3 linked regions of the Homo sapiens genome follow. The protein of the gene in region 3 purifies or fractionates together with the protein of the main gene of each other region. This does not show direct contact. Each region holds a gene or a part of one and is shown on either strand. Other genes may lie near its edges.

Region 1 (3,650 bases), on a different chromosome or scaffold from region 3:
GCTGGGACTATAGGCACACGCTACTGTGCCTGGCAACCATTTGCTTTTTTATAAGTAATAGTCTTAAATTTCTTCACAGGTAGAGCACTAGTTTGCCCCCAAAGTCATAAATTTGTCTCTCTCTCTTTCTGACTGTGCATGTCTGTGTGTGTGTGTGTGTGTGTGTGTGTGTGTGTGTGTGTGTGTGTGTATGTGTAATGGTCTTTGGAGTCTCCATACCATGTAATTAAAGCTATGGGCAGAATCCATGCCTTTTGTATTTTTGAAGCTTATTGTAGAAGTCATGTGTTGGTGATTCCTACACCCACTTAGTGGTGCCTAATGTTAGAAGAGCCCCATATTCTCCTGTTTACTTATGTTTTCTGTGCCTAAAAGGATTTACAGGTTAAGAGTACATGTAGACCTCATTTTTGGAATGGAAGTTTCTAGGATACCCACTTTAGCCTAATCTAAGATGATGCTTAGTGGGTGTATAGATGCTTTCTTAATCTGTGTAAGCAGGAAATTTTTTTTGGGTCCTGTTTCTCCCATATCACATAGAGAGGAAATTCTTGGAGTATCTAGTCTTTATAGTATGTGTGGTAGAGTATAGTCTGTGCCTTTGTGAATAAAATGACCTGTTTTGGCCAAGCAAAAATTTTCCCTTTTCTTTTTCTGTCTGACAAGATGAGCTGTCTTCTTTTATTATTATTGCCTTTGAATTTTCAGTGTGAAAAGGTAACAGTGTTCTTCAAAAAATACTCATGTAATTGGCATTTGATGAATAATACTAAAATCCTCCGTCTCATCTTTCCTAAATATTTTGTTTATTTTTATTTATTTTTTTGAGACAGGGTCTCATTCTGTCACCCAGGCTGGAGTGCAGTGGCACGATCTTGGCTCACTGCAACCTCCGCCTCCTGGGTTCAAGCGATTCTTCTGTCTCACCCTCCTGAGTAGCTGGGATTACAGATATCCACCACCACTCCCAGGTAATTTTTATATTTTTGGTAGAGACAGCGTTTTGTCACGTTGGCCAGGCTGGTCTCAAACTTCTGGCCTCAAGTGATTCTCCCACCTTGGTCTCCCAAAGTGTTGGGATTACAGGTGTGAGCCACCATGCCTGGCCTTCATTTTTCCTAAATATTTATAACCACCGGGCATGGTGGCTCACGCCTGTAATCACAGCACTTTGGGAGGCCAAGGCGGGTGGATCAGCTGAGGTCAGGAGTTAGAGACCAGCCTGGCCAACATGGCAAAATTCTGTCTCTATTAAAACAAAAAATTAGCCGGGCTTGGTGGAGGGCGCCTGTAATCTGAGTTACTCAGGAGGCTGAGGGAGGAGAATCGCTTGAACCCAGGAGGCAGAGGTTGCAGTGAGCCGAGATCACGCCACTGCCCTCCAGGCAGGGTGACAGAGAGAGACTCTGTCTCAAAAAAAAAAAAAAATAAATTATTTTAGAAACAAGTACCTAGACATCCAAAAAGATGATGAATTGGTGTGTAGTTTGGGAGTGAAGTTTGTCTTGTTGCTCTAATGGGGCAGGATTAGGTGAGAAATAAGAAATGTGGAGCCCTAGTATTTTTGCTCTAGAATTAGTTGGTCTTCTACATTTTGTGTACAGAGGAGTAGACCCTCTAAGGACCTCTTTATATTTAATATCAGAGCCAAGAGCTGAGAAAAAACAAGCTACTCTTTCTTGCTGGCCAAGCAAAAGACCTTTTGGTTAGAGGAATGGACTCACATCTTTCAGTACATTTTTTTTTTTTTTTTGAGATGGAGTCTTGTCGCCCAGGCTGGCACGATCTTAGCTCACTGCAACCTCTGCTTCCTGCATTCAAGTGATTCTCCTGCCTCAGTAGTGAGATTACAAGTGCGTGCCACCATGCCTGGCTAATTTTTCTATCTTTAGCAGAAATGGGGGTTTCACCATATTGGCCAGGCTGGTCTCGAACTCCTGACCTCAGGTGATCTGCTCGCCTAGGTCTCCCAAAGTGCTGGGATTACAGCCGTGAGTCACCCACCTGGCCCTTTTGTTATTTTAAACATTGGGGTAAATACCTGCTTCGTATTTCTTCAGGCATTCTTAGCATGTTTCTTAGCTATCGAAGCCCTTGATTAGAAGAGCTAGCACTGCATTGAATCCTATTAAGAAATGTATCCATGTTCAGAATAGAAGTTAGGTTAAAAATTTCTTAAAAACCACTTTAGGCCTGGTGCGGTGGCTAACGCCTGTAATCCCAGCACTTTGGGAGGCCGAGGTGGGTGGGTCACAAGATCAGGAGTTTGAGACCAGCCAGACCAACATGGTGAAACCCCATCTCTACTAAAAAACAAAAATTAGGTGGGCGTGGTGGCACGCACCTGCAATCTCAGCCTACTCAGGAGGCTGAGGCAGGAGAATTGCTTGAACCTGGGAGGCAGAAGTCGCAGTGAGCTGAGATCGCGTCACTGCACTCCAGCCTGGGTGACAGAGTGAGACTCCATCTCCAAAAAAAAAAAAAAAACCACTTTAAAAAATGGTTTTTATTTTAAATTTTTATTTATTTATTTTGAGATTAGGATTACAGGTGTGAGCCACCACACCCAGCCTATTTTTATTTATTTATTTATTTTTAGAGATGGGCTTTTGCTCTGTCACCCAGGCTGGAATGCAGTGGCATGATCATAGTTCACTGCAACCTCGAATTCCTGGGCTCAAGCAATCCTACTGCCTCAGCCTCCCAAAGAGCTAGGTCTAACTAGAGGTGTACTCCACCACTCCACCTGATTTAAAAAAAAAAAAATGTTGCCCAGGCTAGTCTTGAACTCCTGGCCTCAAGGGATCCTTCTGCCTGGGCCTCCAAAAATGCAGAGATTACAAGTTGTAAGCCACTGTGCCTGACCGAAAAACCAATTTTTAAATTTTAATTTTAGAATTGTGGTCTTTTAATTTTTTTAGCAAATCGAAATAAAAATACAGTTTCTAAAGAAAAGATTGTGTGAGACATGGTTTTCAATTTTTGTCGTAAGAATGAATGTGTGTGTATATGTGTGTTTGTGTGTGTATGTGTGTGTGTGACGGCCCTCTTTTAAAATTATTACAAAAGTGGCCGGGCGCGGTGGCTCACGCCTGTAATCCCACCACTTTGGGAGGCCAAAGCGGATGGATCATCTGAGGTCAGGAGTTTGAGACCAGCCTGGCCAACATGGTGAAAGCCTGTCTCTACTAAAAATACAAAAATTAGCTGGGTATGGTGGCAGGCGCCTGTAATCCTAGCCACTTGGGAGGCTGAGGCAGGAGAATCTCTTGAACCCGGGAGACGGAGGCTGCAGTCAGCCAAGATCATACCAGTGCACTCCAGTCTGGGTAACAGAGCAAGACTCCATCTCAAAAAATTAGAAAATAATAAAATTATTACAAAATAGTTACTTGTTGAAAAACTCAACAATATAGATAGTAGGTATAAGGGGAAAAGTAAAAGTGCTTCTTCCCACCCCCATTAATTCTTCAAATTCTACCCTTCAAGGTAACCAATATTAAAATTTTTCATTCAGTAAATTTTCTAGGCCTATCTTTCTATGTATATATGTATATATGTTCATATACACATACTTTAAAGGCATATCAAATTTAAAAGTGTAGCTTTATATCACACTGAGGTTTTTTTCTTGAAGCAGGTGCTGTATT
Region 2 (3,650 bases), on a different chromosome or scaffold from region 3:
GTTGGCACTTCAAAAAAATTTTAGGTTTTGGATTTTGGACTTTGAGATTAGGAATGTTCAACCTATATGTTGGAGATCCTGGCAGTATCATTGCTGGAATTGGCTGCGTATACTCCATTGTTTGGCTGTATAATAATTTAACCAGTCCCATTTTAGGGCATGAGGGTTTTTCACATTCTTTTGCTATTACAGTGGTGCAACAAATACACTATGTAAATTCTTGTACATATTCAAACTGAGTGTCATCTTTGTGTTTATCCCATTGATACTTATTGATAATGACAACTGTTTAGTCTTAGTTTTGTCATGCTCATACTTTTTGTTTTTTCTTAATTTGAAAAATCTTTACATTATGTCTTTACTTTTTTCATATGCCTGTGTTTTCTAATAGTTTGGAAGGTTTATGTGTGTGTGTTCTAGCTGTTACCTTTATAACTACAATTTGATATTATCTACCTTATCTACCATATATACACGGTATTTTTTGAATCCCTGCTAAAAGCAATGATGAAATTGGCATATTTATACTTTTTTCCTTTATTTTTCAGTTATTTTTCTTAGTGTTCACCCTTAAACTTTTAAATATACTTACATTTTATTTATCAGCTTTAACTTCTATCCTTTGACCTCTGGGTGTAAGAGATGAGGGTATCAGTATGCCCATTTACATGCCAGTTTGTAACATTTACCTTCTGCTTTATAATCACAATCCCTACACTTGTTTTCATTTTAGTGATATAATTAAATAGATTATAGGCACATTATTTGTCCTTTTGTTATAATTTGTATCTGTTGAATGGCATGAGTTCAGAAATGTTTGTCTTTCACCTTTATATTTGGCTGATAGTTTGGGTATAAAATTTGGAGTTAGGCTTTCTTTCCTTAAGAATATTGTAGTCAGTGTTCATTCTCTTTTGTAAAAGATTTATTTTTTTAGACAAGATCTTGCTCTGTTGTCTAAGCTGGAGTGCATTGGCGTGATCATAGCTCATTGGAGCCTTGACCTCCCAGGCTCAAGCAGTCCTCCCATCTCAGCTTCCTGAGTAGCTGGGACTACAGGCACGTGCCACCATGCCCAGTTAATTTTTGTATTTTTTTGTGGAGACAGAGTTTTGCCATGTTGCCCAGTCTGGTCTCAAACTCCTAAGTTCAAGTGATCCACTTGCTTCAGCTTCCTAAAGTGCTGGGATTACAGGCATGAGCCACCATATCCAGCCCAGACTTTTTTTCTTGTCATTATTTCCCAAACAATACAGTATAACAACTATTTCCATAGCATTTACATTGTATCAGGTATCATAGGTAAGATAGAGATGATTTAAGTTACTCTTGAGAGGATGTGTGTAGGTCATATGTAGACACTATACCATTTTATATGAGGGACTTTTGAGCATCTTTGGGTTTTGGTGTCTTTGGCGGTCCTGGAACCAGTGTCCCCCACGGATACCAACTGTCCATAAGCAAAGTAGAGGTTTATTTGTTTGATTATAGTGGTGAGAAATGAATGAATTTCTTTCTCTGTCCTTTACAGGAAGAAGTTCTAAAGGATTTTGAAGACTTGGCTGGAAAACTCCCATGGTCAAACCCCTTAAAAGTGTGGAAAATTAATGCCAGTTTTAAAAAGAAAAAAGCAAAGCGCAAAAAGATAAATCAGAATTCAAGTAAAGAGAAGATTAATAATGGACAAGAAGTCAAAATCGATCAGAGAAATGTTAAAAAAGAGTTCACTAGCCATGCTTTAGATTCTCATATCTTAGATTATTATGAAAATCCAGCCATCAAAGAGGATGTATCAACATTAATAGGTGATGATTTGGCATCTTGCAAAGATGAGACTGATGAAAGCTCAAAAGAAGAAACTGAGCCTCAAGTGCTGAAGTTTAGAGTCACATGCAACAGGGCAGGAGAGAAACATTGCTTTACCTCAAATGAGGCTGCAAGAGATTTTGGGGGTGCTGTTCAAGATTATTTTAAGTGGAAGGCCGACATGACCAACTTTGATGTGGAGGTAGGTATAGGCTCTGACTGTGGTGATTGAAGAATGCTGTCACAGATTTGTAGAATTTCCAGACTAACCCAATGTTATGCACAATTAAACTGAGGAAATAGTAGGGTGTGGTTAAGAAGAGCATAGGCTATGGAGACAGATTTAGATCCAAATTTTAACTCCACAACTGTATAACTTTGGACTAGATAGTCTCTGAGCCTCTGTTTCAAATGGAGCCAATAATATTATGTACCTTTAAGGTTATCCTGAAGGATAAATGAGGTACATTTAAAATATTTGGTGCAATACCTTGCATACACTAAGTGCTCCATAGATGGAAGCCATCAAGGTTGAGTTGTCTGTTTTCTTTTTCTTTTTCGAGACAGAGTCTTGCTCTGTCACCCAGGCTAGAGTGCAGTGGTACGATCTCAGCTCACTGCAGCCTCCACCTTCCTGGTTCAAGTGATTCTTGTGCTCAGCCTCCCAAGTAGCTGGGGCTACAGGCACATGCCACCACACCTGGCTAATTTTTGTATTTTTTAATAGACATGGGGTTTCACCCTGTTGGCCAGGCTGGTCTCAAACTCCTGTAGTGATCTGCCTGTCTTGGCCTCCCAAAGTGCTGGGATTATAGCTGCACCTGGCCTGATTTCTAATAGACTACTCTTTTACTATATTATATGGACTTTCATATTATAAAATTCAACCAGAATTAAAATAGTTATTTTGTTTTTGTGTGTCTTGGTTGCAGAGCTTTGCTACTGAAAAAATAAAATAAGGCTGGGCGCAGTGGCTCACGCCTGTAATCCCAGCACTTTGGGAGGGAGGCCGAGGCAGGTGGATCACTTGAGGTCAGGAATTTGAGACCAGCGTGGCCAATATGGTGAAACCCTGTCTCTACTAAAAATACAAAAATTGGCCCGTCATGATGGCACACTCCTGTGGTCCCAGCTACTGGGGAGGCTGAGGCAGGAGAATCACTTGAACCAGGGAGGTGGAGGTTGCAGTGAGCCAAGATCATGCCACTGCACTTCAGCGTGGGTGACAGAGCAAGACTCCATCTCCAAAAAAAAAAAAAGTGCATTTTTTAAACAAACCCTGACCTTCTCAAACCAGGACATCATTGCTAATACTCATCCTAGAGTCAGCTCTCCTCTTTCTTAAATTCTGCTAGATTTCCAAAGCCAGGTACCTCATTTTAGTATATTTACTTTCCTTGGTCTTAATCCTCTTTTATCTGGGTGATTGACATGTGAACCATAGGAACTAAAGTATTTAAGTCTCTGACACCTTAAAACATCTCTAGCAGCTGATATATTTACCAAAGAGTCAATTTCCGTTGCTTTTGGGACACTTGAATCTGGGGCAAGTCACTGATTCTAACTTTTTTGTGCATGTCAAATCAGGAGTCTAATTCCCCATTCCTTTTTTTCCTCATACACTGCCTTGCAAATGAATACGTGGCTCACACCTGTAATTCCAGTACTTTGGGAGGCCTTGGCAGGCAGATCGCTTGAGCCCAAGAATTTGAGACCAGCCTGGGCAAAATAGTGAGACCCTGTCTCCACTAAAAATAAAATAAATATTTTAAAAAATAAAATGAATAGGTTAACCAGAACAGTGATGTCTAAAAGTTAGCAAGGTGATTCAGAGGAGTTTCTGG
Region 3 (3,750 bases):
AGCGCCGCGCGGGGAGGATGCGGGAACCGTTCCGCGGAGAAGCTACGGAGGAAACTGGCTCTCATGCCCTTGGACACGCTTCCTGGCCTGAGCCTGACCTGTTTTCTCTCCTCTCCCACTGTTTTTCAGCTCCAGAAAACCAGGGGCTGCCAGCACCCACCTTTTTGGCAACTGCCTTTCCCTGGTTTCTACCCACCCGGGTCAGACTCTTTTCGCTACCCAGCCGGGGGAGAGGGACGGCTTTCAGACGCTTTCCTCCCTGTCTTCCTGTGTTTCCCATGTTTATCAATGTAAACGGTCTCTCCGCAGAAAATATCGAGATGGTGTTTGTGTCTGTAAGGACACACAGTGAATATAATTTTTCTGAACAAGGCCTTCTCTGGTCAAATCTGGCCTTCGGACGATCAGGCTGGTGGGATTTCAGACACACATCACTAGGCCCACCTTCCTGCCTTATCTAAACACCCTGGAAAGAAAATCACTGACTATGTACTTTTCCTAAGAATAATAAAGATAAGAGACAAAGAAGGCCCCAGGGATTCAGAGTTCAAAATCAAAGAATCGAGACCCGAGCCTCCTGTGCCACGAGCTGTAGCTTCTCGGGTGGTGGCCGCAGAGGCCAGGATCGCATAGCTGGATGAACATTCGGTTGTGACTGGAACTGGGGTGAGGAAGCAGGCGTGAGAGACTGGAGTACCCGAGGCCGGGTTTGCTCTCCCTAGCGCCGCAGCTTGGCGTTCTGGGGCGGTCCGCGGGGCCAGAAGGCATGGCGCAGCCCGGAGTTGGGTACTCACCGGAGGATGGACGATCCGAATAACGTGTGCAGTACACCCAGGCGGGCCATACGAGAGGCTGCTGCGAGTCAGTTTTGACCACGGGCCCGCCGTTGGCTGAGCCCATAAGTAGGATAGCCGGGTTGCCGTGCTCCGGGTATTTGGTGCCCTGCGCTCCGGGGCTCCCCGCGCCGCCTCCACTGCCGCCGCCACCGGTGTCCGAGGGCTTGGCTGCTGCGGCCGCCGCCGCCGCCGCCACTGCCGCCGCGGCCGCCGCCGCCGCCGCAGCCGGGTTCCCAGCTTTAGACGCGCCCGCGCCGGCGGCGGCTGGCTGGGAGCCGTCGGGTGGGCCACAGTTCGCGTCCGGGGCGCACAGGAGCGAGGCAGCGCCTGGCGCCCGGGTGCCCAACGGGTGGACAGGGTCTCTACCTGCGGCAGTCTGGCCTCTGTCACGCTCGACCCGGCCTCCTCCTCCTGCGCCTCCTCTGGCCGCCGCAGCCACCAGAAGCTGCGGTGGCGGCTGCTCCTTTTTGCAGCCGAAGTCCGGCCTCAGGATGTTGTCGATGAAAAAGTTGGTGGTGCGGTGCAGCTGGGCCGCTGGCTGCGGCTGGTGAGCAGGCGCCGCGAGATGCTGAGGCGGCGGGGGCGGGGGGTGTGGGGGGAGGTGCGGGTGGTGGGCCAGGGGCGGCAGGCAAGGCGCCGCGGGCGGCGAGGGGGGCGCAGGCTGCGGGGACACCGGCACGCTGTCTCCATCGCTGCCGCTGCCGCTGCTGCCGCTGGCGCCCGGACTGAGGCTCAGGCTGAGGCCGCCCGGAGTCGCCGCCGCCGCCGCGCCGAGGGCCGAGTCGCGCTGACTTTTAGGTTCCGGCTGCTGTTCTTCCATGCTCGGCCGCCCCGCCGCCCCGGCCGCCGCGCCGGCCCCCGCCCCCACCGCCTCGCTCCCCACCCCACTTTGCCAGCGGCCCGTGGGGGTGCGCGGAGGAAGGAGGCAGGCGAAGCCTCAGCGAAGGCACGGGGCGGGTGCAGGAAAAAAGCTCAGGCGTCTGGCCTGGATCGCTCGTTCTTATCTAGCAGATAGATCTCGCTGTCTCTCCCTCTCTAATTTGTAGACATCCAGATATGGAGACACTTGGCTATTTCTTTTTTCTTTCTGCAACCAGATTCAATGATTTGATTTAAATGGGGAGTAAGCCACGGCCAAAAAAATGAAGGAAAAAAAGAAAAAGAAAAGGAAAAAGAAAGCAAGAAAAAAAGCTCCAATAATTTTTTTCTTAAAGGGAAAAAAATAGTATTTAAAGTCTAGCCATCTTCCTAGGCAGTAGTGAGGGGTTTGACTTCCCCGAGTGTCACGCTCAGCTGTGCCCAGAGCGTGAGGCTGGCAGCGCCTTTAATCGCCTTTGCTTTTTTTGCAGGGAGAGCGCGTCTCCGCCAGCGCCGGGCTGTTTTTTTTTTTTTTTTTTTTTTTTTTTTTTTCAAATCTCTGACAGCTCGGATCTTTGCACAAACTCTCTCGCTTAAAAAAAAAATCACCCAGGCACACTTTTTGCCTTCAAACCGGAAGCACGTGAGTCAGGGCCGCACGTGTGCGGAGCCAATGGCGAGCCGGGACTCGCGCTGACACTCGGGCCTCGGCCCAATGGGCGCGCGCGGGACTTTGCGGATAAATAATCCGGGGGCGTCAACCGCTGGCGGAGAGGGGGCGCCTCGGCGCTGGCCCTGTGCGTCGGGTCCGCCCTCCCCCACCCGCGCCCGCACCCGCGTCCCTCCCCCTCCTTCAGGCCGGGACTCAGGAGGGGGCAGAAGAAACCCGGGAGGGGTGAATTTTGGGATGTAGGCAAATGGAGAAGCAACTCCATAAACAACTTGTTAGAGAAATGCAGGATTATGGGTCTGTGAGCTACGGGAGCAGGGGCAGTAGGCAGGAGCCTGGCTGTTTTGCACCCCCACGCCTAAGAAACTCAGCTTTTTATTTTCTCCTCTGTCTCTGGTTGCTGTTATTGAAGGATGGGTGGTTGTTGTCACTGCCGGTTTGTGTGTTTGTGGGTGGGTGTGGGTTTGGGTGTGTGTAGTGGAGGGAGGGGGAGTGAGACAGGGAGGTCGGTGATGTGAAATAGACCTAGAGTTGGTTACTTTCAGAGGCGCAATTTGTTTTTCACAAATAGCAAAATCTGAAAGGCCCGCTGCGCCTAGCTAGCGTCGCACGTTTACGTTTGTACGTCTCCTGCCGGCCCGCTGCATTGCTTTCCCTTTGTGGGGAATCCGCACCCATGCCCTTCCCGGTCCAGACTTTCGACAACACCCTGGAGCTGCCCTGGCGCCATAGAGCCAAGCCCAGAGGGCTAGGAATAGCCCCAGAGCCAGTTGCCTGGACCTTCCCTGGCAGTGGGAGTCCGGGCAACGCAGATTAATCTCAGGAGGGCCCCGGGGCCGGCGAGTCAGAACGCGGATGCGCGCTAGGCCCTAGCTTTTAGAGTTCAGGGTAACCTCTGTGTTAGATTTCCCTGCAAAGTAAAATCAAATAAATGAAAGCGCTGCACCCCAAGTATTTGCCCTGGCTAGCTGAAGTTGTGAACAGGGAGTTTCCCTCAATTGCCGGGTGACTGAATTTCCTGGGATTGCTCCCAACTCCCTGGGTGCCTCCGGCTCCAGCTCTGTGCGTTCTTCCCTAGTTTGAGGGAAATGCCGTTCCTCCAGCTGCTATCATTCTCCCGTCTGCCGATCTCTTTTTCGCTATTTCCTGGTCGAGGCACCCCCAAAATTTTCTCATAACCGGGAATGTGAGGGACGGGGGTGGCGTGTGGACTGAAGCTCTAGGCACCTGCGGGACTTGTCTCCGGATTCGTTTTGGAGGACCAGTATCCGACTATGCTGAAGCCTGCGGTGGCCGAGAAAGGCGTCAGCAAACGAGGCCTTCGGGGGTGTCATCTTAGAGCTCCAGCGGACCTCCTCGCCCTGAACGCCCTCCGCAACTGGGACA

What was found.
Region 1: the proteins of EN1 (region 3) and ANKHD1-EIF4EBP3 purify together in Homo sapiens (affinity purification with mass spectrometry, with the first as the bait; one large-scale study listed by BioGRID). This does not show direct contact.
Region 2: the proteins of EN1 (region 3) and THUMPD3 purify together in Homo sapiens (affinity purification with mass spectrometry; one large-scale study listed by BioGRID and IntAct). This does not show direct contact.

What each region holds. Positions count from the first base shown.
Region 1 is NC_000005.10:140,404,825-140,408,474, forward strand, and holds part of ANKHD1-EIF4EBP3 (ANKHD1-EIF4EBP3 protein), read left to right. Parts: intron 1-3,650. UniProt on the Homo sapiens protein: May play a role as a scaffolding protein that may be associated with the abnormal phenotype of leukemia cells. Isoform 2 may possess an antiapoptotic effect and protect cells during normal cell survival through its regulation of caspases.
Region 2 is NC_000003.12:9,369,529-9,373,178, forward strand, and holds part of THUMPD3 (tRNA (guanine(6)-N(2))-methyltransferase THUMP3), read left to right. Parts: intron 1-1,531; coding exon 1,532-2,008; intron 2,009-3,650. UniProt on the Homo sapiens protein: Catalytic subunit of the THUMPD3-TRM112 methyltransferase complex, that specifically mediates the S-adenosyl-L-methionine-dependent N(2)-methylation of guanosine nucleotide at position 6 (m2G6) in tRNAs.
Region 3 is NC_000002.12:118,845,512-118,849,261, forward strand, and holds the start of EN1 (homeobox protein engrailed-1), read right to left. Parts: upstream 2,138-3,750; 5' UTR 1,657-2,137; coding exon 795-1,656; intron 1-794. UniProt on the Homo sapiens protein: Required for proper formation of the apical ectodermal ridge and correct dorsal-ventral patterning in the limb.